Homo sapiens: one gene and its partners. The protein of the gene in region 3 purifies or fractionates together with the protein of the main gene of each other region. This does not show direct contact. Each region holds a gene or a part of one and is shown on either strand. Other genes may lie near its edges. The genes, in order: CPNE1, EN1, NFIB, GPC4, MTHFD1, TBCA and SOX5.

Region 1 (3,500 bases), on a different chromosome or scaffold from region 3:
GTGGACAGACCTGCCTCAGGGTGGATGGGGAAACTTACCTGCACAGTAGGGGTTACTGGGGTTGAAATTCAAGGCAAATTCATGCGAGACCTGGAGACAAGAATGAAAATGAGGTTCTTTCCCCATGACCTCTGCTAAGAATGAAAAAGGACACTGGCGTGTGCCAAGATTCCTATAGGAGCTATGGAGTCCTGAGCACTTGCTGTCTACGTGCCTGCAGGAATCCAACCCTGCATCTCCTCTTAAAGCTGAGTGCCAAGTAGCAAGTAAATTTACCACATCCCCCAAAATCAGGACCCTGAAACTGAAAACAGGAGTGGCAGAAAGAGAGGGAGCTCACCTGCCAGTCAGGGGGAACCTGGGCCCCAAATCCAAATGCAGGGAACAGCTTGTCTCTGTGGGAGGACAGTGTATTGGGCAAAAGGCAGTGAGGGGACTGTAAGCTCAGAGGCTGAAGCATCTGCAGGGAGCGGGTATAGCCCAGAGAAGCAGGTACTCACGAGTCATAGTCCTGAACCACGCTGCCCACACTCCACAGTGCCATCAGGTACTCATTGACCCCTGTTGGACTCAGGTAGTGTAGGGAGTCAGGTGAGGAGGGGTCTCCATTGGAGCCAGTGAAGTCCACGCCCACCTGGGAGGAGGTGAGGAAGGCAGCTAAAGGCCACCCTGAGCCCCAGACCTGTTCTCTTGCCCTTGGTAAAGTAACTTACAGTGAAGTTGATCTGACAGCCTCCCATCACATAGTCCAGAAAGGAGTACTCTGTTTCTACCTGCAAATGAAACCAGGGTCATGCCTGGGGTGATAGCAGTTGGTGTCATGGAGCTCAGGAATCAGAGCCTTGGTTACATGGGCTTTTGTCTCACCCGACAAATCTTGACACGGATAGTTCCAGAGTTCTTGTAGCTTTTCTTTTTCTGCTGCTTCTCAGGGTGGATGCATTCAAACTCAGCCTGGTGAGGACAGAAAAATTAGGGTAGGAAATTCTCAGAGCATCAGTCAAGGACTCGAGCTGCCTTCTCCTTCCTCTCTCCCACAAGCTTCAGCTATCTAGGCCCATTTCCACACCCCTGGCAAGACCAGCACTCACCGGGACTGCCTGCAGCTGGGCCAAGCTGGTGTGGAAGGTACCGATGAGATCATGTGACCCGTCACTGTCATAATCGGAGCATTGCACCTGAGGGAAAGGTGTGTGTGGACATAAACAAGCCAGGTGGCAGATGAGAATAAGTCCCTCCCCAGGTTCTCTTCTCCAGCGCAGTCCACTTAGGGGGCAAGCTCCTCACCTGGATGGGTGTGCTGGGGTTCCCACCACAGAAATGCTGAACGGGGACTGAGAAACGCTTCCATGTAGGGTTCAGGTTGTTCTTGATGACCTGAAGGTGGAGGCCAAGGCCTCCAGTGAGCTCTGGCATGGCCCCCTGAGGAGCTGCCACACTTCTCTACCCACCTGCAGTCTCTTTCTGAGTTCCAAACCTTGCTAGTCACAGGCCCCAGGAGATTATCTCCTACCCCAGCCCACCCAATCCCAGGGGTCTCATACCTCAGATCTGTACACCAGGTGCCATTTCCCATCACCCTGGCGGAAGAACTCCAGAAATGGATCTGATTTTCCCAGGAAGTCCTGCCAATGCGAGACCCCAGTTACAAGACTCAGGAACAAACAACCATTATGCCATCCCTCTGTCCACACCCCCATCCCCCATACACCATCCTTGGCCCCTTAACTCTTGGATTACCAGGGCCTACTTCCAGACACACCTTCTTATCTAGGTTTCTGGCCTCTACCTCCATGGTTACTACACGATTGTCCTTTAATTCCTGAGCTGAGACCTAGGTAGGGGAGACTACATCACCTCATGAATTCATTGATGTTAAGTCCCTCCTCAACCCTTGCTGGGTTCCTTACCGTGATGGTCCCCCGCCCAGCAGGTTTTCCAGGCTTCAGCATCAAGGGGAGAGTCAGTACCTGGCTGGACACAATCTGGGGAAAAGCAGGGAAGGGAGTTTCAGGATAACAGGCAGGGTTAGGTCCTGCTTGCCCCCTACCTCCAGGCAGGCTAGGTTGTCTCACAGACCTGCATCTGAAGGATCCTAATCCCCAGCCCTACATACCTGTCCTAGGGAACACTCAGCACCCCCTAGGAAGTCATCATCCCTCAGCTCTGGCGTCTTGTTGTCTATGTCATAGATTCCAAAGCGTAGCTTCTGGACTGTCTCAAAGCGGTACTCAAGCTGTAGAGTCTTGGAGAACTCAGGGCTTGAGCAGTTCCGCACCCGTTCAGTCCGGCCAAGCTGTGGGCAGAGGCCAGTAAGCATCACAGTCACAGCCTCCACCCCAAAACACAATCCTAGCCTCCCTCCACAACCTTAACCTCCATAATCCGCCTCACCTCAGCCCAGCTGCCCCCTCCCACATCCTGTAAAAGGACGCAGAGTGGGTCAGACTTGGAGCCGATGTCCTTGTCAATGAGATGGTCACAGGAAATGGACAGCTGAACCAAGGTCACGCAGTGGGCCATCTGAGGGAAAAGGAGCTGGGTCAAGCACCAGGGAGCCTTCTCTCCCCTTCCCCGACTACAGGTCCCAGCTTGGGAAGGCCAGCAGGCATCACCCAGGCAGGGCTGAGCATACGTCCACCCCCGTGACACCCAAGGAAGAGAAGGCCTCATAGCCTCCAAACCCCTCCACCCCTAGGTGAGCTCACTGGCACAGAAGATGGCAGATACAACCAACCCTGGTCTGAAGATATTGAAAAGGGGTACTAGCCTCCATCTACAACTGTGACCCCAAACTATCCTCACCCTAAAATTTGTCTTAATCCCAATAGGGCTGTCCAAACCCAGACTCTAATCTTGGTCTTTGCAAAGACCAATAAATCTTTCTGACCCCCTTACTGGCCCCAGGCCAGACCCTAATCCAAGTTCTGATCCTAACATAACCCCAAATATAACTATGATCCAGATAATATCCTCCACAAATTATCTTCTTCCAATAATTTCTCACTAACCCTGGGGATCTAACTCTTGTGGTGGAGTTATGATCCCCCTACTAATTCTCCTCACCTCTACTGCTAATGTTCAACTCCTCACTATTTCCACTGCTGCTGCCCAATCTAAGCCATCACTGTTTGTCACCTGGCTTACAGCATTAGCCTCTTCAACTGGTCTCCCTTATTCTATGCTGTCTCCACCTCCGTTCCCCCATGTCCACCCCAACAGGCTATTCTAAATACAGCAATCAGGGCGATCCTATTAAAACATAAGTGAGGCCGGACACAGTGGCTCATGCCTGTAATCCTGGCACTTTGGGAGGCCAAGGTGGGCAGATCACTTGAGGTCAGGAGTTTGAGACCAGCCTGGCCAACATGGTGAAACCCCGTCTCTACTAAAAAAAAAAATACAAAAATTAGCCAGGCATGTTGGCGTGTGCCTATAATCCTGGCTACTCAGGAGGCTGAGGCAGGAGAATTGCTTGAACCCAGGAGGTGGAGGTTGCA
Region 2 (2,978 bases), on a different chromosome or scaffold from region 3:
TTTGGAGATGCCGGCAAAGATCCTTCTTTCCAGACAGTTTTAGAGATGAACAGGCCTGACAGGGACTTAACTTGGTTCAGCAAGCTACCATATCCAAGGCAGGACCCAGCAAGTAAATGCCAGAAGACTTGGGTGTGGAAGCAGGTGGGCAGAGGTGCAGGCTTTTGAGGCACACACCAACAGTTCAATCCTCTCCTGGTTTTCCCGCTTTCCCTCCCTCCTTTCTCAGTGGGCCCTCCTCCCAGACTAGTATTTGAGGGGAACTTCACCTTCCTAAGGAGGTTTCCTGTGGCCCCTTCCCATTCCTATCTGGTGGTCAAAGCACATTTTTTTTTTTCTGGATTGTCCCTGCTTCCCTCCCTCTCCTTTTTGCTCATAGGTGGGGGAAGGGGCTGCAGTCTCCTTGCAAATGTCATCAGTAGGCAGAGAAAGCCAATCCGGCTTGTTTTTGTTATTCAGGAGTTTTTAATCCTGAAATTGCATCAGTTGAAAGGGGAGATAAGGAAGACCCAGATAAGAGAGACCCTGCCCCACGCAGCCGGTTAGAGGAATGTGGAAGGCCCTCCCTTTCTTATTGGCACCATCCAAGGGGCAAGGCTGAAAACCCAGAGCCAGGGTCATGAGGATGGATCAGGGCCTTTTCTCCTTCAGAGAAGGGGTGGTCCCTGCATCCCTGAGACCCTAGAAAAGGCTTCCTTTAGGCCAAAGAGAAAGAAGGCGAGGAGGTGTGTGTGGGAGGGAGGGGTGCGGGGAGGGGGGCAGACACCAAATACTTTGGAGCTAAGCAGCCCTCTCCCAGCCGGCTCACTATCCCGTTGTTTTCTGAGGTCAATAGCTACAAGCAGATGGGGTCTTATTGTAGTTTCTCCTGTAGGTATGATTCTTGAGGAGGAGAGGAAGATTTGTTTGCAGGCTGGCGACTCCCCCAGGGCCTGCCCTCACTGCCCCAGTCCTATCTATTCCGGGGCGGTGAGGACAGCAGGCCCCTGACCCCCAACTCTGGGCTGGGCCATATGAGCTCCAAATATCTCCTCATCTTGGATTCCTGCCTTCTTGGCTTGGAAATGTTGTGATTTCGGTCTGTCCCTGACTGTCCTGTGAGAATTGGGGTGTGGGGTGCACCTACAACCTCAACCAGCTTTCCTTCACTGCTCCTTTGCCCTCCCAAAGGGAACCCGGGGACCCCAGTGGTCTGGTGAGGGGCACTTCGATCCAGGGATTGGCTGGCGGGAGGGAGCCAGGGGTTCAGCAGGGCCTCCGAGATCGCCCCGGAAGCGCGGGGCTCGCGGCCCAGCTCGGCAATGCTATTCTCACGGCTTCCTTTGCCCTCTCCCCCCTCCCTTCTGCCCTCGGTCCCCACCCCCACCCCACCCCGGCCCTCTCCGCCGCTGCAGGTCCGCGCACCAGGAAGCTGAAGAAGAAGAAGAACGAGAAGGAGGACAAGCGGCCGCGGACCGCGTTCACGGCCGAGCAGCTGCAGAGACTCAAGGCGGAGTTCCAGGCAAACCGCTACATCACGGAGCAGCGGCGGCAGACCCTGGCCCAGGAACTCAGCCTCAACGAGTCCCAGATCAAGATCTGGTTCCAGAACAAGCGCGCCAAGATCAAGAAAGCCACAGGCATCAAGAACGGCCTGGCGCTGCACCTCATGGCCCAGGGACTGTACAACCACTCCACCACCACGGTCCAGGACAAAGACGAGAGCGAGTAGCCGCCACAGGCCGGGGCCGCGCCCGCGCCCCCTCCCGGCACCGCCGCCGTCGTCTCCCGGCCCCTCGCTGGGGGAGAAAGCATCTGCTCCAAGGAGGGAGGGAGCGCAGGGAAAAGAGCGAGAGAGACAGAAAGAGAGCCTCAGAATGGACAATGACGTTGAAACGCAGCATTTTTGAAAAGGGAGAAAGACTCGGACAGGTGCTATCGAAAAATAAGATCCATTCTCTATTCCCAGTATAAGGGACGAAACTGCGAACTCCTTAAAGCTCTATCTAGCCAAACCGCTTACGACCTTGTATATATTTAATTTCAGGTAAGGAAAACACATACGTGTAGCGATCTCTATTTGCTGGACATTTTTATTAATCTCCTTTATTATTATTGTTATAATTATTATAATTATTATAATTATTTTATCCCCTCCCCCACCGCCTCGCTGCCCCCGCCCAGTTTCGTTTTCGTTGCCTTTTTCATTTGAATGTCATTGCTTCTCCGGTGCCTCCCGACCCGCATCGCCGGCCCTGGTTTCTCTGGGACTTTTCTTTGTGTGCGAGAGTGTGTTTCCTTTCGTGTCTGCCCACCTCTTCTCCCCCACCTCCCGGGTCCCTTCTGTCGGTCTGTCTGTTCTGCCCCCCTTTCGTTTTCCGGAGACTTGTTGAGAAATACGACCCCACAGACTGCGAGACTGAACCGCCGCTACAAGCCAAAGATTTTATTATGTTCAGAAACCTGTAGTCTGAAATAAAGTGTACACTGTGCTCACGAGCGCTGGCGGCTCTCCTGTTTGCGGGCTCGGGAAGGACGTGGGTCCGGGCACACAGCGCCCCAGCGCCCCTGCGCACGCCGGGCGGGGAGCCGGCCGGGCCTTGCGATCACCGCACAACGAATGCAGGGCGAAGGGGAAGCGCGACCCAGATTTGGGTTTAGCCTGGGTCTGAAGGGTCTGGCGGGACACGCCTGGTCTCCGATTGCGTTCAAGGGAACTCAAAGGCCGACAACCACAGTCCTGGCTTCGGAAACGCTGCCTGGGCTGCGGGGCAGCTCCCCGCACCGGTCCAGGCCCAGCCCAGTGGCGGCCTCCTCCTGTACAAACTGCTTTTCACTCCAACCTGCACTTTTCTTTTTCTTTCTTTCTTTTATTTCCCCTGGTGCAGGTTTTGCTGCAGATTTTTTTTATCCAGAGATAGAAGGGGGCCTGCCTTCCTCCCTCCCCGACAGCCCGCTTGGGCGAGGGGCACTTTGGCCTGGCCTCTTGGCCGCCTGGA
Region 3 (3,500 bases):
TGAATGGCTTCATTAGCTAAAGTCAACATACACATCAGTGGGTCTTATGATTGTAAAACCCTAGAGGACTGAAAGCACTAGCATACTGTAAACCCTCAAGAAGTCAGAATTTGTGATACACACATAGTGTTGTGCTGAAGTTTATGTTTACTTAGCAAACCCCTATTTCATAAATAATGAAGTTTAATTGTGTAAACAAAGATTATGATGCGGATATATTAAAACACTTAGGAGGAGAACTTATCAGGCCTTTCAGAGACACCTATTTACATATGGAGGAGAAAATAAATGTTTGCTGAATAAATTACGTAATGAATATAGATAATTAATGTGCTAATTACAAATCAGTAATGTTTGTTATAACAAATAACCTAAAAGTTTCTAGGATATGACATTATAAGTTAAGAATGAATGAATGAAGTATATTAAATTTACCTTGGTTTTGAACTGTTCTAGAAAGATAATTTTCATCTTTGTTTTAATGTTTGAAATTCAGATTTTTCAAAATATCTATCTGGGCTTTTGAAGGTTCTAATGTGGTTCTCCTTTGACAGCCCTTAGCATAATATTACCTATCATGAGGTACTAAATAAATATTTTCTGACAGCTGACTCTACTGCCCTACTCCTAAGAAGGATGAAAATATACCATTGAACTTGAACTCAGAGAAGTACAAATTTAAGCAAATAATTTAATAAGCCTCCTAACTGGAGCACCATAAGCCTTTCCGCTAAAGAAGAGTATGGGGAAGACACACACACCCCTTCAGATAACCCCTGTCTTACCTGATGCTACAAAGTGCTACTGGTAAGTCAGGCATATTTCTTCCCAAATTAAAAGTGAAAACTTTCAAATGTTGGATACCTTTGGATATCACATATTGATCTGGAAAAACACATTAAGGTACACTGCCTTGGACAATCTCCTTGCCCATCGAATACACACCCTGGGGCTACCAGAATACAGGATATTTGTGTTTCTTCTCCTACACTGCCACCATGTAAAAAGACCCATGAGAGAAGTCTTTTGGGCATACATTTATCCACTCTAGAATTATACCAGAAAGGATAAACTACTTAAGATCTTAAACGTTCATATGTATCACTCCCTGCTATACATGCTATTTGCACTGTTCACTTTAGAAATGTGAGCTATTTGAGGAACTACGGTTCAAAAGACAGTCAGTGATAGCGTGAAGATTCCTTTACTGAACAACAAGACTCTAAAACACTGCTTATTCTTATCCTCAGTAACTCGATTACTCTTTGTTCTTTCTGGATCATCATAATTCTTATTCATGACCTCTAAATATGACCCAAATGAGAAACACAACTTAGGCAGGTATCAGAGTGTGACTACATCATCTGAATAACATCACTCCGAAGTGTGATGCATTCTATCAAAATGTCAGGTGAAAATATACCCTTCAAAGTTACATAAATAAGCTAAATCAGTGAAGGGAGTATGAAGAAAGGAGTCACCTTCTTTAACATAATTAGTACATATAGATCTGCATCTTGGATATGTTTGTACATGCTAGTAATAAGTAAAAGAGTTAATCAAGGTAACGTCCCCTTTGCTTAGGTAGCCTGCCAGGTGAGCTTAGCCTAGAAAAATCTGATCCAGCCTGCTAAGAATGGTGTCTCAGGTGAAGTGGCCAGTTAAAACAATTGGACATTGTTTTGGATAACAATGCTTTCTATCTATATCCAACTACAATCTGCAAAGTTAATTTCTGCATCCCTCTACACTCTGCACGTTAGTGTGTATATCCTGTGCATCTCCAACCCCCACCAAAATGTTAGTAAAATGAAAAAGCACTTATCTACAGGAAACTTATGTGGGTTATCATAACAACATAGAGTACATTTAATTAATCACACTTCCTTTGATATAAATGGCCATCTATGGTCATGCAGAGAACAGTGAATTAAATGAATACCAATAACATGGCAATCAGAAAAACCCCAAAATTATTTTTGTACAACAAAAAGTTTTGATGATTTGAATGCAAACATTTTAGAAAATCAAGCAAAATATATTGTTATTTCATCAAAGGTTTTAAGATTTTAATTCAAATTTTCCTAATATGTGGTCACTCTTTATACTACATTTAAGGTTCAAAATATAAAGTATTTTAAATCATACTGCATGCTTAAGTAGTAACAAAACAATTTACTTACTTCTGGATACTCTTACAAGTTCTGATACATTGAAGACTCCAGATTTTACAAAACTATCCTCAAGGTAACCTGAAAATAAATATTAAAGGAAAAATGATCAATATAAGCAGAAAGTAAAATAAATGATTATACACTAGAATTTAAGTGTTTTAAAGCCAATGGTTTGAACAAAAACCAAATATGCTTACAATAAGGACTTTAAAAAATGACTCTTAGGAATGCAAATTAGGTTTGTTTAAACAAAAATAAAAAGTTTAGATACCAAATAATCTCTTAGGAAAATTTTTTCTTCCCTTTCTAAAAGTACAGGTTTATTGATGCGGTTTGATTTGCCATGGCCCATGCATACAGAATGGTCTGTGGGCTCTCAGTGAATGCTTTTGACTCGGTAGCACCTGGTAGACTAAAGCGAAAAATGAAAGAAAGAAAAAGGAAACCACAACCACAATTAGCACCTTGCTGGAATAATGTCAAAGATCTCTTAAAGCCACCGTTCTTTTGTAAACCCTTCTCTGATGAAAGAAAAGTGAACTGCTGTTACCAGCACCCCGACCCTTGTTCCAGGGTCACTAATAACATAAAAAGCAGAACTTGTATATACAGCAAATACAGAACTTTGCGTTGACCTATTTCTGGGCATCTTTAATATACGTTGCACGATTTCACTGCTTTCCTCACCCTTGCTACTATTCCACTGGACTCCTTTTATTTCAAGAATTAGACAACTTTTCTGGCAAATGGTGGTGAATCCAGGCCTCTGGGAATGCCACATGACCCTTAAGTCACACCGGGGCAGGGTCCACAGTGGCCATGGAGCCTGCTTGCTAGCTGGTCTATGTCCAAAACTAGAGATGAGAACTCCCACAAACAACAGTAACCCTGCACCCAGCCCACCCCATTCTCATCTATGTTAAGGGGGTGTAATGAGTGTGAGGAATACCTTAGCAGGGGAGGTTATGGCCTACTTGCTTCTGTCCTAGGGTGAGAATAAGTTTGAAAATCCTCAGAATTGAAATACATCTGAGAAACAAACAAACAAAACTAGATTCTAAGAACTGGCAATTTGACTGGATTTTACATAAAGCTTCAGGGCTGACCAAGGAATTAGATGCAGTTCAGAGATGTGAAGCATGGGTAGTGCAGCAACATGGAGCACTGAAATCAAAGAGCTGGGATTTGAATCCTAGCCACAGATGACCAGTTATGAAATCTTGGCTAGGTTATTAGTCCTCTTTTTGCCTCAGATTCCTCACTTAACAAATTGGAGACAATAAAAATCACCTATCTTATAGAGTTGTTACTACTGGAGATAAAAAT
Region 4 (3,500 bases), on a different chromosome or scaffold from region 3:
AACCCACCATCCTCCTCAAGAGGGATAGCTAGCTTCCTTCCTTCCTTCCTTCCTTCCTTCCTTCCTTCCTTCCTTCCTTCCTTCCTCCAACAGAGTATCACTGTCACCCTGCTAGAATTCAGTGGCACAATCTTGGCTCATTGCAACCTCACTGCAATCTCAGCTGCTGGAATGCAGTGGTGCAACCTTGGCTCACTGCAACCTTCGCCTCCTGGGTTCAAGTGATTCTCCTGTGTCAGCTTCCTGAGTATCTGGGATTACAGGCACACACCACCACACCCGGCTCATTTTCATATTTTTAGTAGAGACAGGGTTTCGCTATGTTGGCCAGGTTGGTCTCGAATGCCTGACCTCAAGTGATCCACCCACCTTAGCCTCCAAAAGTGCTGTGATAGCTTTGAAGAAGGTTTCCATCAAATTGGAGAAATGAGGAATCCACAGGAACAAGAAAGATTAGAGTTCATTAGGAATTAAAGAACTTCCATCTAATTTTGCTTAGTGGAAATACTAGAATCTAGCAGAAGTATTTGATAACCTCTTGTATAATCTTCATAATCTTCACGCCTGTAATCCCAGCACTTTGGGAGGCAGACAGATAAAATCTTTTCGCTTTACGAATCATCTTACTGGGGTCATTTTACATTCCAGGTACCTGTTTGCAGTGACAGGAAATGGATTAGCCAACCAGGGCAACAACCCAGAGGTCCAGGTTGACACCAGCAAACCAGACATACTGATCCTTCGTCAAATCATGGCTCTTCGAGTGATGACCAGCAAGATGAAGAATGCATACAATGGGAACGACGTGGACTTCTTTGATATCAGTAAGCATTTGTGGTTTGAAAGTACGAATTGCTCTTGTATGTCTTCTGATGAGAACAAGTGGAATGAAATTTCTATTCCATTTTTTTTTAAACTAGGTGATGAAAGTAGTGGAGAAGGAAGTGGAAGTGGCTGTGAGTATCAGCAGTGCCCTTCAGAGTTTGACTACAATGCCACTGACCATGCTGGGAAGAGTGCCAATGAGAAAGCCGACAGTGCTGGTGTCCGTCCTGGGGCACAGGCCTACCTCCTCACTGTCTTCTGCATCTTGTTCCTGGTTATGCAGAGAGAGTGGAGATAATTCTCAAACTCTGAGAAAAAGTGTTCATCAAAAAGTTAAAAGGCACCAGTTATCACTTTTCTACCATCCTAGTGACTTTGCTTTTTAAATGAATGGACAACAATGTACAGTTTTTACTATGTGGCCACTGGTTTAAGAAGTGCTGACTTTGTTTTCTCATTCAGTTTTGGGAGGAAAAGGGACTGTGCATTGAGTTGGTTCCTGCTCCCCCAAACCATGTTAAACGTGGCTAACAGTGTAGGTACAGAACTATAGTTAGTTGTGCATTTGTGATTTTATCACTCTATTATTTGTTTGTATGTTTTTTTCTCATTTCGTTTGTGGGTTTTTTTTTCCAACTGTGATCTCGCCTTGTTTCTTACAAGCAAACCAGGGTCCCTTCTTGGCACGTAACATGTACGTATTTCTGAAATATTAAATAGCTGTACAGAAGCAGGTTTTATTTATCATGTTATCTTATTAAAAGAAAAAGCCCAAAAAGCAGTAAAATTTCCATTTCTCCCTGTTATTTTAGTTGCCTTATCTGGAGAGACGTGGAGGTGATTTTCTTTTTTTTAAATTATTATTAAGACAGAATGTGAGGGCACAAGCAGGCTTCTGAGCCACTTGTCAGATTGTATTCAAAGCATCAATCCAAGAAGGAGGTTATGTGTACTTCATTTATTGGTGATAGTTGGAAGAGACTGCAGACTACTGCTTTGAATGAGTTGAATTACATAAGCTAAGATCACTATAGGTCCATTTCTTGAACCCACTTATACATAAAATGTAACCCATTTAGAAAAAGATTCTGGATATCATCCCCCTTGAAAGATAGAAAGCATTCAGGATGTCCCAGTTATCACATGTTCACACTTGGGTTTAGGGGTGTTTTTTTTTAAAACCAGGCAGGTTAGCTAGCCCACCCTGTGCTAGTTTTCATGTTCACACTGACCCTATTTGAATTAATATCCTTTGTTAGAGTGGTCGAGATTTCAAACCCAATTATGTACAGGGAGCTGTCTGAGAGCTAGCCAGAACTGGGGTACAGCCTGGGCTCAGGGAATAGCTGTCAACACTCGGGCAAAGTTTTTGTCTGTGCATGTGTATCTCCATTTGTTTTGGGATCCCAGTTTTTGTTTTAAGAGAGTATAAGGTGTCTCATTTGAGTCTTTTTCTTACCTAGCCCCCTCTTATCAGTAAAACAAAGGACTTGCCATGGTTCACAGCAATGTGCTACGATCCAAGATATCAGCCAAGGAGCCCACTTAGGGGAGAACTAGGTGTCCAGATTTTTGTATGTGTTGTTTTTCTTGGGGGATGGGGTGGGGTGGGAGTAGGTAGAGCTGAGAATACTACATCTTAGTGGTGACCTTTAGCCACGTGGGTGAAGTGGCAAAGGCCATGGCCATATCTGTTGTCCCAGGCCAAAGACTAACAACTGCCTTGGGAATCCCTTCCTTGTGTCCTTACCAAATGATAGCTCATAAAACTCTGATAATGTAACAAATCACTTTCAAAGGAGTTCCCAGAAGTCTTCAGAAAGACTAAAATTCTGTCTCTTCCTGCTTTAGACAGCCATTAAGATCCCAACTAATTTTACCGAACCTAAAACCCACAAAGAGGTTGTTTGTGTTATTGTTCAATCTTCAGTTGTAAGAGTAATTCTCTATTTTTATATTGAAACATAATTACTTGATAGCTCAGGGTCTACATTTCATTCAACTTTTTACACCAAATTCTGCAGAGTGGTCAAAATGGAATATTGGGGGCTGTTGTAAACAGAGGCTTAATTTTATTAGAAGTAGCCAGTTATTTATTAAAGCATGATGTTAATAAAATAGGCATATTCTGGCTGGTGTGTATAAGTGGTTTTTTTTTTAAAACAAATCAGAAGACATAAAATTGAAAAGGCACTCCATTTATATATAAGGGAAAATAGATTGTAAATAGCTAAGGGGCCTTGTGAGAACTTGGAAAATGTGCTGATACTTAGTAACTACCTCAGTTGTGAGGAATTTCCTTTTTAGCTTAGACTGCTATTACTTTTACTTGGTAGAAATGAATCTGGTCTCCAAAATATGGCTCAGAGAGTTATCCCCATAGACCTTGTTAGATTGTTTTTAATTTAAAACCTTGAACTCTGCCCAGCTGTTTTCTTCCAGTCAAATTCTCTAAACCAATAACATTTTCCAAATTAAGTATTCTTGAAGGTTCTTCTGAACTCTTACTGATTTGTTTTCTTTCTTTGCATTTTTTCCTGTTACTCTTTTATTATTTAAATTGTCTCTTGCTTTTGAACTTCAACTATGAAATAAACAAATCATAGATTTTTCCATTCAGGTCTGACTGGATAACTCTTGGCTTCTAAGCAGCTGGCAAGCTCACCCCCACTCCC
Region 5 (4,124 bases), on a different chromosome or scaffold from region 3:
GTGGTGCCTGTAATCCCAGCTACTCGGGAGGCTGAGGCAGAGAACTGCTTGAACCCGGGAAGCGGAGGTTGCAGTGAGCCAAAATCGTGCCACTGCACTCCAGCCTGGGCGACAGAATGAGACTCCGTCTCAAACAAACAAACAAAAAAAGTTTTAGATGAGCTCTGCCAGTAGTAAACGGCTTGTAAAAGAAACCCGGTATCTGGTCAAGTCCTAAGTGACCTGAACCACGCATCTTCAGGACTCTACTGGGATGACTGTAACCTGAACGCGGTTCCTAGAGCAGAGCAAGCATATTCCTTGGACTCAGTAACACAAGGGGCCAGTCCTCTCCAGCATCCCAGCTGCCACCGCCCTGTCAGGCTCCCCAGGCAATTGTCCATCTTACTCCTTCTCCAGCGTGGACGCTTAAGGGGAGGGAGCATCCCTCCTCGAGGGTCAACTGGCATGTAGCTTACGAAGACCGCGTGAGTTCTCCAACCCCAGACTTGCTGCGGGGCGGGGACGTGGGGGTGACAAAATCCAGACTACGACCCTCCATGAGCCCTGGCAACCCCGGGGTGACCCCAACACCGATGAGGCCACGCGCGCTCCAGCTCTGACACTCCTTCCAGATCGGCGGGGCCTGAAACAGCGGGCTAAGCTTCACCTACGGCTGAGCGTCAGATTCAGCTGAGGAGATTCTAAAAGCGCTATGCTGGGCCCAGACCCAGGCCCTCCAGAGCAGAACGCGGAGGGGCCCGACCCCAGTCTGGTGGCGTAGGTGTGTGACAAAGTATGAGGGCGCGCCAAGCTCTCCAGTTCCACATCTGCTGTCGAGTCCAGCGCCTGCCACGCTCCCGTGCGGGGACCCGCCCAAAACTCCCTGGAAGCCAGGCGATTCAGACCCCGCCACCGCGTCCCCAGAGACTGGGCGGAAACCGGAGACTCGCCTCCCGAACCCGCGAAACTATCTCCCGCGAGACTGCCCCGCCCCAACCCCGCCCCGCAACTCTACTCCCTGATTGGCTGGAATTACGGCCGGATTCCGGAGTCCTTTCCAGCTCCCTCTTCGGCCGGGTTTCCCGCCGAATACAAAGGCGCACTGTGAACTGGCTCTTTCTTTCCGCCAATCATTTCCGCCAGCCATTCATCACCGATTTTCTTCATCTTCCCCTCCCTCTTCCGTCCCGCAGTCCCCGACCTGTTAGCTCTCGGTTAGTTAAGGGACTCGGGTCCTTCCGAACTGCGCATGCGCCACCGCGTCTGCAGGGGGAGAAGCGGGCAGGGGCGCAGGCGCAGTAGTGTGATCCCCTGGCCAGTCCCTAAGCACGTGGGTTGGGTTGTCCTGCTTGGCTGCGGAGGGAGTGGAACCTCGATATTGGTGGTGTCCATCGTGGGCAGCGGACTAATAAAGGCCATGGCGCCAGCAGAAATCCTGAACGGGAAGGAGATCTCCGCGTAAGCACCTGACATTGTTGTTGAGTGTGGGGCTGTGGACGAGGGCTCTGAGGGTGTGCAGGTCCCCCGGACCCATTTTTTGCGGGAGGGACACTTGTAGCGGAAGAGTTAGGCCCATAACACCTGAAGACCTGCAGCCAAAGAAAGAGAACCCGGGCACAACCTGCGTTTGCAAGTGGACTGCCTAGTGGCTGTAGCCGCTGGCTCCTGTGCTTCGGGGAAAAGTCCTGTGCCGACTATGCTCCCAAACGCGCAGCTGCTGGTGACTTTCTGCCGGGAGAGTGGGTAGTTGCGGCTTCCTGGAGCCCCCCTAGTCAGAACTCAGAAATCCAATCTACTTAATTCCCGTTAATTTGGAGGTGAGTAGATGGAGACTAGTGAGGTGACAAGGCTTGACAAGACTACAAGGCTGATAATGACAGAGGGTCCTTCCAGCTCATAGCTTTTCCCACTATACCATAGTCTTATCATACGCTAAGTGAAATCTAATACATTTTTCCTTTCTCTTCAATCTCGTGCTTCTCTCTAACAGCCATCTCTCTGCCCTGGTCCTAGAGTTACTTGAAACGTAATTTGGCTCCTGAGTCCTGAGAATATTCTGCATTCCACTTGACCTCTGCCTGTTCTACCCTTGCGGGACATCTGAATGCTTAATTAGTGGGTATCGTTGCCAGCTTTACTCCCAGGAAGTAACACTGGCTGCTTTTTGTCTGGGAGGTGACTGGTGAGGAAAAATGAGAGTAGAAGGAAGAGGGAAAAATATATTCCCTCTAGTAGATGAAGGAGGGAAAGATATATTCTGTGTGACCTTACTGAGTTTGCTCTTGGGACCTTTCACATCACCCGTTATGTAAGTAACTGTTGCCAGCCACAGCAGTTACTAAATTGTAATTGTCCTGTAACTCCTAACTTTGTAATAGGTTTTTGAGTGAATTACAAAGTCATCGGTGGTGAAAAGTCCGGGCCCAGTGGCTCATGCCTGTAATCCCAGCACTTTGGGAGGCCGAGGTGGGTGGATCACCTGAGGTCTGGAGTTCAAGACCAGCCTATCCAAAATGGTGAAACCCCATCTCTACTAAAAATACAAAAAATTAGCCGAGTGTGGTGGCAGGCATCTGTAATCCCAGCTACTTGGGAGGCTGAGGCAGGAGAATCACTTGAACCTGGGGGGCAGAGGTTGCAGTGAGCTGAGATGCGCCATTGCACTCCAGCCTGGGCAACAAGAGCGAAACTCCGTCTAAGAAAAAAAAAAAAAGAAATCACAATACTTACTGCTTAGTGCTTTTCAACATGTGGCTTGCTAAACTGTATTTCTGCTTTACTTTCTGTTTTTGTTTGCTTGTATTCAAACTTACTTCCTTTTCCAGTGGCTTTTTGTTTTAATATAAAAATCTTCCTTTTAGAAAGACTGATTGTGAAGAGATAATTTAGTGCATAATAATAGTGCAGATAATTTAGTACAATAATAATGCATCTGGGCCAGTACTGAGAATAGGTGCTCACTGAATATACTTTCGTTAATTGGAGAGCAAATTAAATATGTTTATCAACTCCATAAGGGCAAATACATGTATTGTCTTATTTTTGTCTATATCCTAAACACCTGGAAACCCTGTTTCCTGCCTTACTACTTGTGTGGTTTTAAGCAAATTAATTAACCTTTCTGTGCCAAAGTTTCCTCAAATGTTAAGTAAAAGTAATGTCTAGGTCATTGGGATGTTAGTAGAATTAAATGGGTTCCTAACAGATGATCATTTATAATTCTTCCTGGCACATAATAAGTATTCGATATATGTTGTATTAATAATCAGTAATTAGTTAATGTATATATGAATGATTCATTATCTTTTTTTTTTTTTACATGGTAGCTGCTGCCTTGAGATCTATTTTTTTTTTTGAGATGAAGTCTTGCTGTGTCCAATCTTGGCTCACTGCAACCTCTGCCTCCTGCATACAAGCAATTCTCTCATATCAGCCTCCTGAGTACCTGGGATTACAGGTGCCCGCCATCACGCCTAGCTAATTTTTTTTTTTGAGATGGAGTTTCACTCGTCGCCCAGACTGGAGTACAATGGCGTGATCTCGGCTCACTGCAACCTCTGCCTCCTGGGTTCAAGCGATTCTCCTGCCTCAGCCTCCCAAGTAGCTGGGATTACAGGCGTCCGCCACCATGTCCAGCTAGTTTGTTTGTTTGTTTGAGACAGAGTTTCACTCTTGTTGCCCAGGCTGGAGTGCAATGGCATGATCTTGGCTCACTGCAACCTCCACCTCCCAGGTTCAAGCGATTCTCCTGCCTCAGCCTCCCGAGTAGCTGAGACTACAGGTGTGTGCCACCCCGTCCGGCTAATTTTTGTATTTTTAGTAGAGACGGGCTTTCACCATGTTGGTCAGGCTGGTCTGTAACTCCTGACCCCATGTGATCCACCCACCTCGGCCTCCCAAAGTGCTGGGATTACAGGCATGAGCCACTGCACCGGTCCTAGAATTTCTTAAAAATCCAGCCCACTTCCCACATTCCATCCTGCGGATTAGGAAATCATTTGAGGCCAGAAAAGTGATGTGATTTGTCCAAGGGTGAATGGCAATGGCTCAACTAAAACTAAGGTCTTCACCCAGTATATGATGTTTTTCATTCTAACCAGCACTTACTACTTGCTAAAAGGAATTTCGTAAGCTTTTCTTTT
Region 6 (3,500 bases), on a different chromosome or scaffold from region 3:
AAATTATTGCTAAAACAATTTTAAATTATAAATCAAATGCAGATTTCTGTATCTGACATTCACATGTTTCTGTTGTCATGCTTGAATGTATCAGTACTTGCAGCTTTCCCCTGAAGCTGACTTTGTGGTCACAGCTTTTTTTTCCTTTTTGCCAACAGCTTTATTGAGATATAATTCACATACCATACAATTAACCCATTTTAAGTCTACAGTTTACTGGCTTTTAGTAGATTCACAGAGTTGTGCAACTATCACCACAATCATTTTTAGAACATGTTTCTTACCCCCAAAAGAAACCTTATACCCTTTAGCTATCACCTTTCCAATTCCCCTGTTGTCCCCAGTCCTAAGCAACCACTAATCTACTTTACGTTTCTATAGATTTGCCCGTTCTGGATATGTCCTGTAATAAAATCATACAATATGTAGCCTTTTATGTCAGACTTCTTTTTTACTTAGCATGTTTTCAGGGTTCATCCATGTTGTGGCTTGAATCAGCACTTTATGTTTTTTATTGCCCAATATTCTGTTTTCTGGATATACCACATTTTCCATTGATTATTGGACTTCCACATTTTGCCTGTCTTGCATAATGTTGCTGTAAACATCCATAGACATGTTTTCTGTGGGCATATATTTTTATTTTTCTAGGGTATGTACCTAGAAATGGAATTGTCAGGACATATGGTTACTCTGTTTAACTTTTTGAGGAATAGTTAAACTTTCCTAAAGCTACTATACCAATTTTGATTGCCATCCAGCAATGTTTGATGGCTCCAATTTCTCTGCATCCTTGCCATCTTGCCAACAGCCAGATGGAGAAAGCTATTTTTATTACATATGTGCTATGAAAGCTTTTTCTTCTGCTCTTTAGATACTGTGTATATAGGAATGTTAATATTTTCTTAGACTATACTTTTATATTACAACTTTAAACAACCAGAATTAGGGAAGATTGAGCTATTATGATTAATATAATTTGGATTATCTGTGGGATAATCAGTAGAACTTTGTATTGCAGTATTTCTTATTGTTGAAACTTTTCCTGATGTACTTCTTTTAAAATACTTTTTCTTACTTTAGTAAGTAAATACTAGTTTGTTTCCACCACTTGTCTGTGACAGAACTGCATCTATCCCAGCTCCTTGCACAAGGAAAGTCTGGCATAAAATTAAACGCACAATAAATACTTGTTAAACGATTTTGTTGTTAAAAAATAATCCAGTCTTTCTTTGTTTTGGATTTGACATGCAATCTACTGAATTTTCCCCTGCCAGTAAACTGAGCTTTTATCATTGTGCTGTTTCAGATACATGTATAAAGGTTTGGAAGACATATTTAAAAAAAAAAAAAAAAAGACAGTTGTATTAATATATATTGGTATATACTAATTTTGAGTATCGCTTTCACATTGTAATTATAATATACTGAAGTGGGTTTTTAATTTAAAAATTAAGAATTTCATGCTTTGGGCCAGGCACGGTGGCTCATGCCTGTAATCCCAGCACTTTGGGAGGCCGAGGCTGGTGGATCACAAGGTCGGGAGATTGAGACCATCCTGGCTAACATGGTGAAACCCCATCTCTACTAAAAATACAAAATATTAGCCGGGCGTGGTGACGGGTGCCTGTAGTCTCAGCTACTCGGGAGGCTGAGGCAGGAGAATGGCATGAACCCGGGAGGCAGAGCTTGCAGTGAGCCAAGATCTCGCCACTGCACTCCAGCCTGGGAGACAGAGCGAGACTGTCTCAAAGAAAAAAAAGAATTTCATGCTTTGATAGATTGCACTTACGTTAGGCAGGTATAGGACTTAAGAGCATGAGGATCATGCTTATATTTATGACTAAACTATTTTTCTTCTGTTCCTTCCTCCCCCCATCTAGTATATCTACTTTGGTATTTTAAATATAATATGTTTTATATTTACACAGTTTCTTTCTTATGGTCTGGAGAGAAAGCTAATTTTCTAAAACATTTTTGGCTTTTTTATAGGTTGGTCAAAGAAAAAGTGATGTATGAAAAAGAGGCAAAACAACAAGAAGAAAAGATTGAAAAAATGAGAGCTGAAGACGGTGAAAATTATGACATTAAAAAGCAGGTAAAATTATATCATAAATAACAATAGCTAACATTTACAGAATGCCATATTAACTAATGTAGTTTTTACAGTAGTCCTCTGACTGAGATTATATTATTATTTACTTCTTTACTATTAAAACTTCCATTTAAAGATAAGGAAACTCAAACACAGGTTAAATAACTGCGCAAATCACATAGTTGTTAAGTGACACAGCTGAGGTTTTGTTTTGTTTTGTTTTGTTTGAAACAGGGCCTCACTCTGTCATCCAGGCTGGAGTGCAGTGGTGTGATCATGGCTCATTGCAGCCTTGACCTCTTGGCTCAAGCAATTCTCCCACCTCAACTCTCTAAAGTGCTGGGATTACAGGCATGAGCCACCACACCTGGCATAGCTAAGATTTGAACACAGGCATTCTGGCTCTAGTATCTGTACTCTTAACCGCTAAATTCTACTGTCTTTTCCAATTTTAAGTATCAGATATAAAAATGGACTAATCTTATATTAATTATATATTTAGATTCACAAATATTGTCTCCACACTGATGTGAAGACTACAAAAATAAAATACGCATTGCACTTTTCAATGGCTACTTGTGATTGTCTTCATGACAAATTTCAGTGGCCTTAACATTGCATACAAGGCTCTTCTTGATTTTGAATCAAGAAATGAGGTTACATCTGCTTATCTAACCTCATTTCTTACCAATCCCTGTCTCAACCTCTTAGGTGCCTTATAGCTCCCTGAACATGCCCTTTCTTCTTTGCCTCTGAAATTTTGCATGTCTGGGATGCTCTTACTCCTGGCCTTACCTACCCTCTCCTTATTAATTTCTGTTCTTCCTTGAGGTCTCTTCTACTCTCACCTCAAACTGAGTTAGGTGCCCCTCCTTTTTGCTCCCATAACACTTTCTTTATTCCCATGATAGCATATATTGAACATTCATTCTCAGCTGACACTTGCTTCATAATTCCTTGAGAAAATAGAGGCCGTTAGGGAACTTTCTCATATTCTTACGACAAAATCTGTCAACCTATCTGCATCTGTACCTGTACCACTTTCCTTCCTGTAAGAGTGGACTATGTGCCCTAGCCCTTGTTATAACTATCAGTGACATTGTTATTACTCTTTTTTCCCTCATCTTAAATACCTCAATAGCATCTGACACAAGTTACCACTTTCACCTTGAAACTTGACATATCCTCTGAGGTGTTCAAAATTAAAATCTTGATTTCACACTACTCCAACCTACTCTCCCAAACAAAAAACAATTTCTTCTTTCTTTTTCCTCATCTCAGTGAATGGTACCTCCACTCATCCAGATACTCAGGTCAAAAATTTAGTTGGTCCCTTCTTGATATTTTTATCTCTTTCTCATAACCACATCTAATATCAGCATCATCTCCTATTTCTTTTTTTCTT
Region 7 (3,500 bases), on a different chromosome or scaffold from region 3:
ATGTGACTGTCCATGGGACTCTTTGGATAACTTTAAATATTAGGGGGAAAATTCAAAGGAAATTATTATTTTTCTCATCTTAAACATGTGACTGTAGACTCCTTAAGAAACTAGAGGAATGTAACTGTTCATTTGTTCTTTTCCATACCAGTTTTACATATATTTTGGGGGGCAGACCTGTCATTGCTGTATCAGCATATGTCATGCATTTGTCAGCATATAATTTCAAAGAAAAGCCAATTATATTACAGGGAAATACCTATATTGTTTTTAACCTCAAAATTTGGTCAGTGTTTTTATTTTTGTAACCTCGGAGAGAGAAAGAGAACATAAGGTACTATATGTTCAGACAGTCTTTAAGTAGCAAAGATATATCCTCCCCTATAATCATCCATTCTGCCAAATTGATTTGTGCTTCTTTACCTATTTAATGTTTCTACACTACTGGTATGCCTGTTGATTTAATCTGACTATCCTCTTTCCGAATTGCATCAAAAATCACATATCGGAGTTTATTTTGAGCTGTTGAAAGTAAATGGTGAAACAGTCCATTGAAAGAAAGAGAAAACAGATTAGAAATTGGTTAAAAATACAAATATAACATTTGCCACCACAAGGCTTATCAGAAAAACTTCATAAACAAGCATCTGTCTTAAGAACTGGAAGTACCATTATCAGAAGTACTTTTTCTTTTCAGATATCTTAATAGACTGAAAAATAGGAATGCAAGGAAAAGAGCTGACAAAAGTTTTAACGCTAACACGAAGTGATGTTTCCTGTTTTCAGGAAGTGCTGGAGTCTCAGAGTCAAGAATTTATAGGGAATCCCGAGGGCGTGGTAGCAATGAACCCCACATAAAGCGTCCAATGAATGCCTTCATGGTGTGGGCTAAAGATGAACGGAGAAAGATCCTTCAAGCCTTTCCTGACATGCACAACTCCAACATCAGCAAGATATTGGGTAAGAAAACCATTAAGAACTAAGTGACGTATGGAATAAAGGTACTGTTCTGTTTTCTGCAGTTGTGGAAGGATCCTGGATTTGGAGGCCATACAGGTCGTGTTATTTGCTTATCCAGAAAATAAACATCATCATTGAGGCTTCTTCTGGTGATGAAGCATTCTATGTCCATTGAGAAATATGCCATATTTCTATAGCTCATGTAGCTGTTTGTCTTCATACTAATTATTTTAATGCTTTATCTTCTTCAAAAATCTAGAAATATTTTTACTAAAGCTGAGAAAAAAGTTGCTTTCACATGAGCCACTAGATATTGCTACTGATCATTTGTATTCATTTCCTTGCATACTATAGACAACTTACTGTTAATCTTAAGGCCTCCTTCCTCTCTCATCATCCTCTGTAACAGAAGGATAAGGAGTTTTATTTGCGGAATTCATCTTGTTGTGGGGGTGAGGGTGGAGGTGGGGAAGATGTTTGTTCCAGTGCTATAATTGAAAATCAGTTTTAGATTTTCAGAACACAAGAAGATGTAGAGTGTACATTTTTACATTTATACTTTTAGTAACCTTAAGTACTAAAGGTACTTTTAGTCATACTAAATACTTTTCTGCCATTGCAACATTCAATTGAACAGAAAACAAAGTACGCATTTACTCTACCCACACAGAGACTGTAGCACACAGGAAAAATGGTTGGGGAGAAAGGGTGCTGATTATAAAGATACCTATTATAGACCAGTTCAGGTCCCAGGGGGAAAAAGAAAAAAAGAAGATTCCATTGCTTTTGTGCCTTATCTGACATCATTATCACTGTCATTGTCATTCATCACTGTCTGATGGCCAGATACTAGACAACCTAAGAAAATTTTGATGATTCACTCTGTGACTTCTAAGAGTTAAGTGACAAAAATAGAATAGAAACATTTTATCAGAAAATGTTGGTTTTAACAAATAAGTAACAAAATTTGTCAAAATTATTAAAGTTTTATTAGAATTCGTAAGGCACTTGGAATTACACGGAGTTTATAAAAATAGTATCACTTTTGATTCATTACAGATCATCTATAAATGGCAAACATATGCATGAGGTTTTGTTTTGCAGATGGAGTCTCGCTTTACCGCCCAGGCTGGAGTGCAGTGGTGTGATCTCGGCTCACTGCAACCTCCGCCTCCCGGGTTCAAGCAATTCTTCTGCCTCAGCCTCCTGAGTAGCTCGGATGACAGGCGCGGGACACCATGCCCAACTAACTTTTGTATTTTCGCAGAGAGAGGGTTTCACCATTTTGGCCAGGCTGGCCTCGAAGTTCTGACCTCAGGTGATCCGCCCACCTTGGCCTCCCAAAGTGCTGGGATTACAGGCATGAGCCACCACGCCCGGCCGTATGTTTTTATGATCCCATATTCTCAACAAAGATAATAGATGCCACCTAGTCCACAAGGTGCATTTGTAATGGGATCAAAACAAACCATTAGCCACTTAAAATTGTGTCTCATTTTTCACCTAAATGTTATCTAAAAAGACATGAACATGCAAAGCTTTCAGTAGTATACATAGAAAATATGAAAATCTGTGTGTAAAAATATATATCATGCATAATCAAAAACTTGAACTGATCAAGAGGAAATACACATTTTTTTACATCTCTACCAGCTCTGATCTATTTTTCCCTTTTGTGACTATATTTTTTGTGACTATATTCTACCTTCCATGTGAAATTTCCTATCTTTAAAAAACAACATACCAGTTTCATTTGGGAAAACTCTAGAAAAGAATACTTTATGTAAGCATATTTCATGTTTTAATATATCAGTTATTCCCAAATTAGAAATCCAAAATTGTCAGAATAAAAACCAAGTTAAATACTAAGATTTCAAAACTGTCTTTATATTATTCAATTCTTGTGTCTGAATACCAAAAAGGTGATAATCATTAATTAAAACTATCTTAACTATAAGAGAAATATCAGTTTTGATGATAAGAAATGATATTTTAGGAAATGTAGCAAAAGTATCTATGGAAAAGAGATGACTGGCTATGAGAATTCCCTTCTGATTTGAGGGAAAGAATATTAGAATGACCATATGATTATATTATAATAGACAACATGAAAGAGAATACTGCCTAATTTCAGTCTTTCTGATGAAAATGTATTCTTTAAAGATATAACATTTATATTTAGGAACAAATAAAACATTGAGGTATTTTGGGCTCAATATTTAGTCACAGCTTTAAATAAATAAGTGATCTTCAAATATCCACAAGATCATTCTAAATGACCCATTTCATACAAAAGTACAAAGAAAGCTTGATGTTTTCCTCTTTGCTGATTGTTTTGGATAACAGCCTCCGACAGCATGCCGCTAATTCATTCTGCTTAAAACAGGCGCTTGAGCTGGGTTGACATTTTACGTAGTCTCTGGGGATCGTAGTTGACATTTTAAAGGGCTTCTAAGCATTTTATAATACCCTAAAATCTGGTTTTAATAAGCCATTCTGCTGAAATTGTTAACATAAGGAATCACCTTTTACTGCTTGGC

What was found.
Region 1: the proteins of NFIB (region 3) and CPNE1 purify together in Homo sapiens (affinity purification with mass spectrometry, with the first as the bait; one large-scale study listed by BioGRID). This does not show direct contact.
Region 2: the proteins of NFIB (region 3) and EN1 purify together in Homo sapiens (co-immunoprecipitation; one large-scale study listed by IntAct). This does not show direct contact.
Region 4: the proteins of NFIB (region 3) and GPC4 purify together in Homo sapiens (affinity purification with mass spectrometry, with the first as the bait; one large-scale study listed by BioGRID). This does not show direct contact.
Region 5: the proteins of NFIB (region 3) and MTHFD1 purify together in Homo sapiens (affinity purification with mass spectrometry, with the first as the bait; one large-scale study listed by BioGRID). This does not show direct contact.
Region 6: the proteins of NFIB (region 3) and TBCA purify together in Homo sapiens (affinity purification with mass spectrometry, with the first as the bait; one large-scale study listed by BioGRID). This does not show direct contact.
Region 7: the proteins of NFIB (region 3) and SOX5 purify together in Homo sapiens (co-immunoprecipitation; one large-scale study listed by IntAct). This does not show direct contact.

What each region holds. Positions count from the first base shown.
Region 1 is NC_000020.11:35,630,401-35,633,900, forward strand, and holds part of CPNE1 (copine-1), read right to left. Parts: intron 2,524-3,500; coding exon 2,395-2,523; intron 2,297-2,394; coding exon 2,117-2,296; intron 1,986-2,116; coding exon 1,911-1,985; intron 1,835-1,910; coding exon 1,763-1,834; intron 1,626-1,762; coding exon 1,545-1,625; intron 1,378-1,544; coding exon 1,288-1,377; intron 1,179-1,287; coding exon 1,092-1,178; intron 955-1,091; coding exon 868-954; intron 774-867; coding exon 714-773; intron 635-713; coding exon 501-634; intron 396-500; coding exon 341-395; intron 91-340; coding exon 39-90; intron 1-38.
Region 2 is NC_000002.12:118,841,671-118,844,648, reverse strand, and holds the end of EN1 (homeobox protein engrailed-1), read left to right. Parts: intron 1-1,394; coding exon 1,395-1,711; 3' UTR 1,712-2,478; downstream 2,479-2,978. UniProt on the Homo sapiens protein: Required for proper formation of the apical ectodermal ridge and correct dorsal-ventral patterning in the limb.
Region 3 is NC_000009.12:14,153,642-14,157,141, forward strand, and holds part of NFIB (nuclear factor 1 B-type), read right to left. Parts: intron 2,253-3,500; coding exon 2,184-2,252; intron 1-2,183.
Region 4 is NC_000023.11:133,300,490-133,303,989, reverse strand, and holds part of GPC4 (glypican-4 precursor), read left to right. Parts: intron 1-648; coding exon 649-824; intron 825-920; coding exon 921-1,123; 3' UTR 1,124-3,500. UniProt on the Homo sapiens protein: Cell surface proteoglycan that bears heparan sulfate. May be involved in the development of kidney tubules and of the central nervous system.
Region 5 is NC_000014.9:64,387,029-64,391,152, forward strand, and holds the start of MTHFD1 (C-1-tetrahydrofolate synthase, cytoplasmic), read left to right. Parts: upstream 1-1,324; 5' UTR 1,325-1,399; coding exon 1,400-1,440; intron 1,441-4,124. UniProt on the Homo sapiens protein: Trifunctional enzyme that catalyzes the interconversion of three forms of one-carbon-substituted tetrahydrofolate: (6R)-5,10-methylene-5,6,7,8-tetrahydrofolate, 5,10-methenyltetrahydrofolate and (6S)-10-formyltetrahydrofolate.
Region 6 is NC_000005.10:77,706,840-77,710,339, reverse strand, and holds part of TBCA (tubulin-specific chaperone A), read left to right. Parts: intron 1-1,992; coding exon 1,993-2,098; intron 2,099-3,500. UniProt on the Homo sapiens protein: Tubulin-folding protein; involved in the early step of the tubulin folding pathway.
Region 7 is NC_000012.12:23,540,671-23,544,170, reverse strand, and holds part of SOX5 (transcription factor SOX-5), read left to right. Parts: intron 1-786; coding exon 787-960; intron 961-3,500.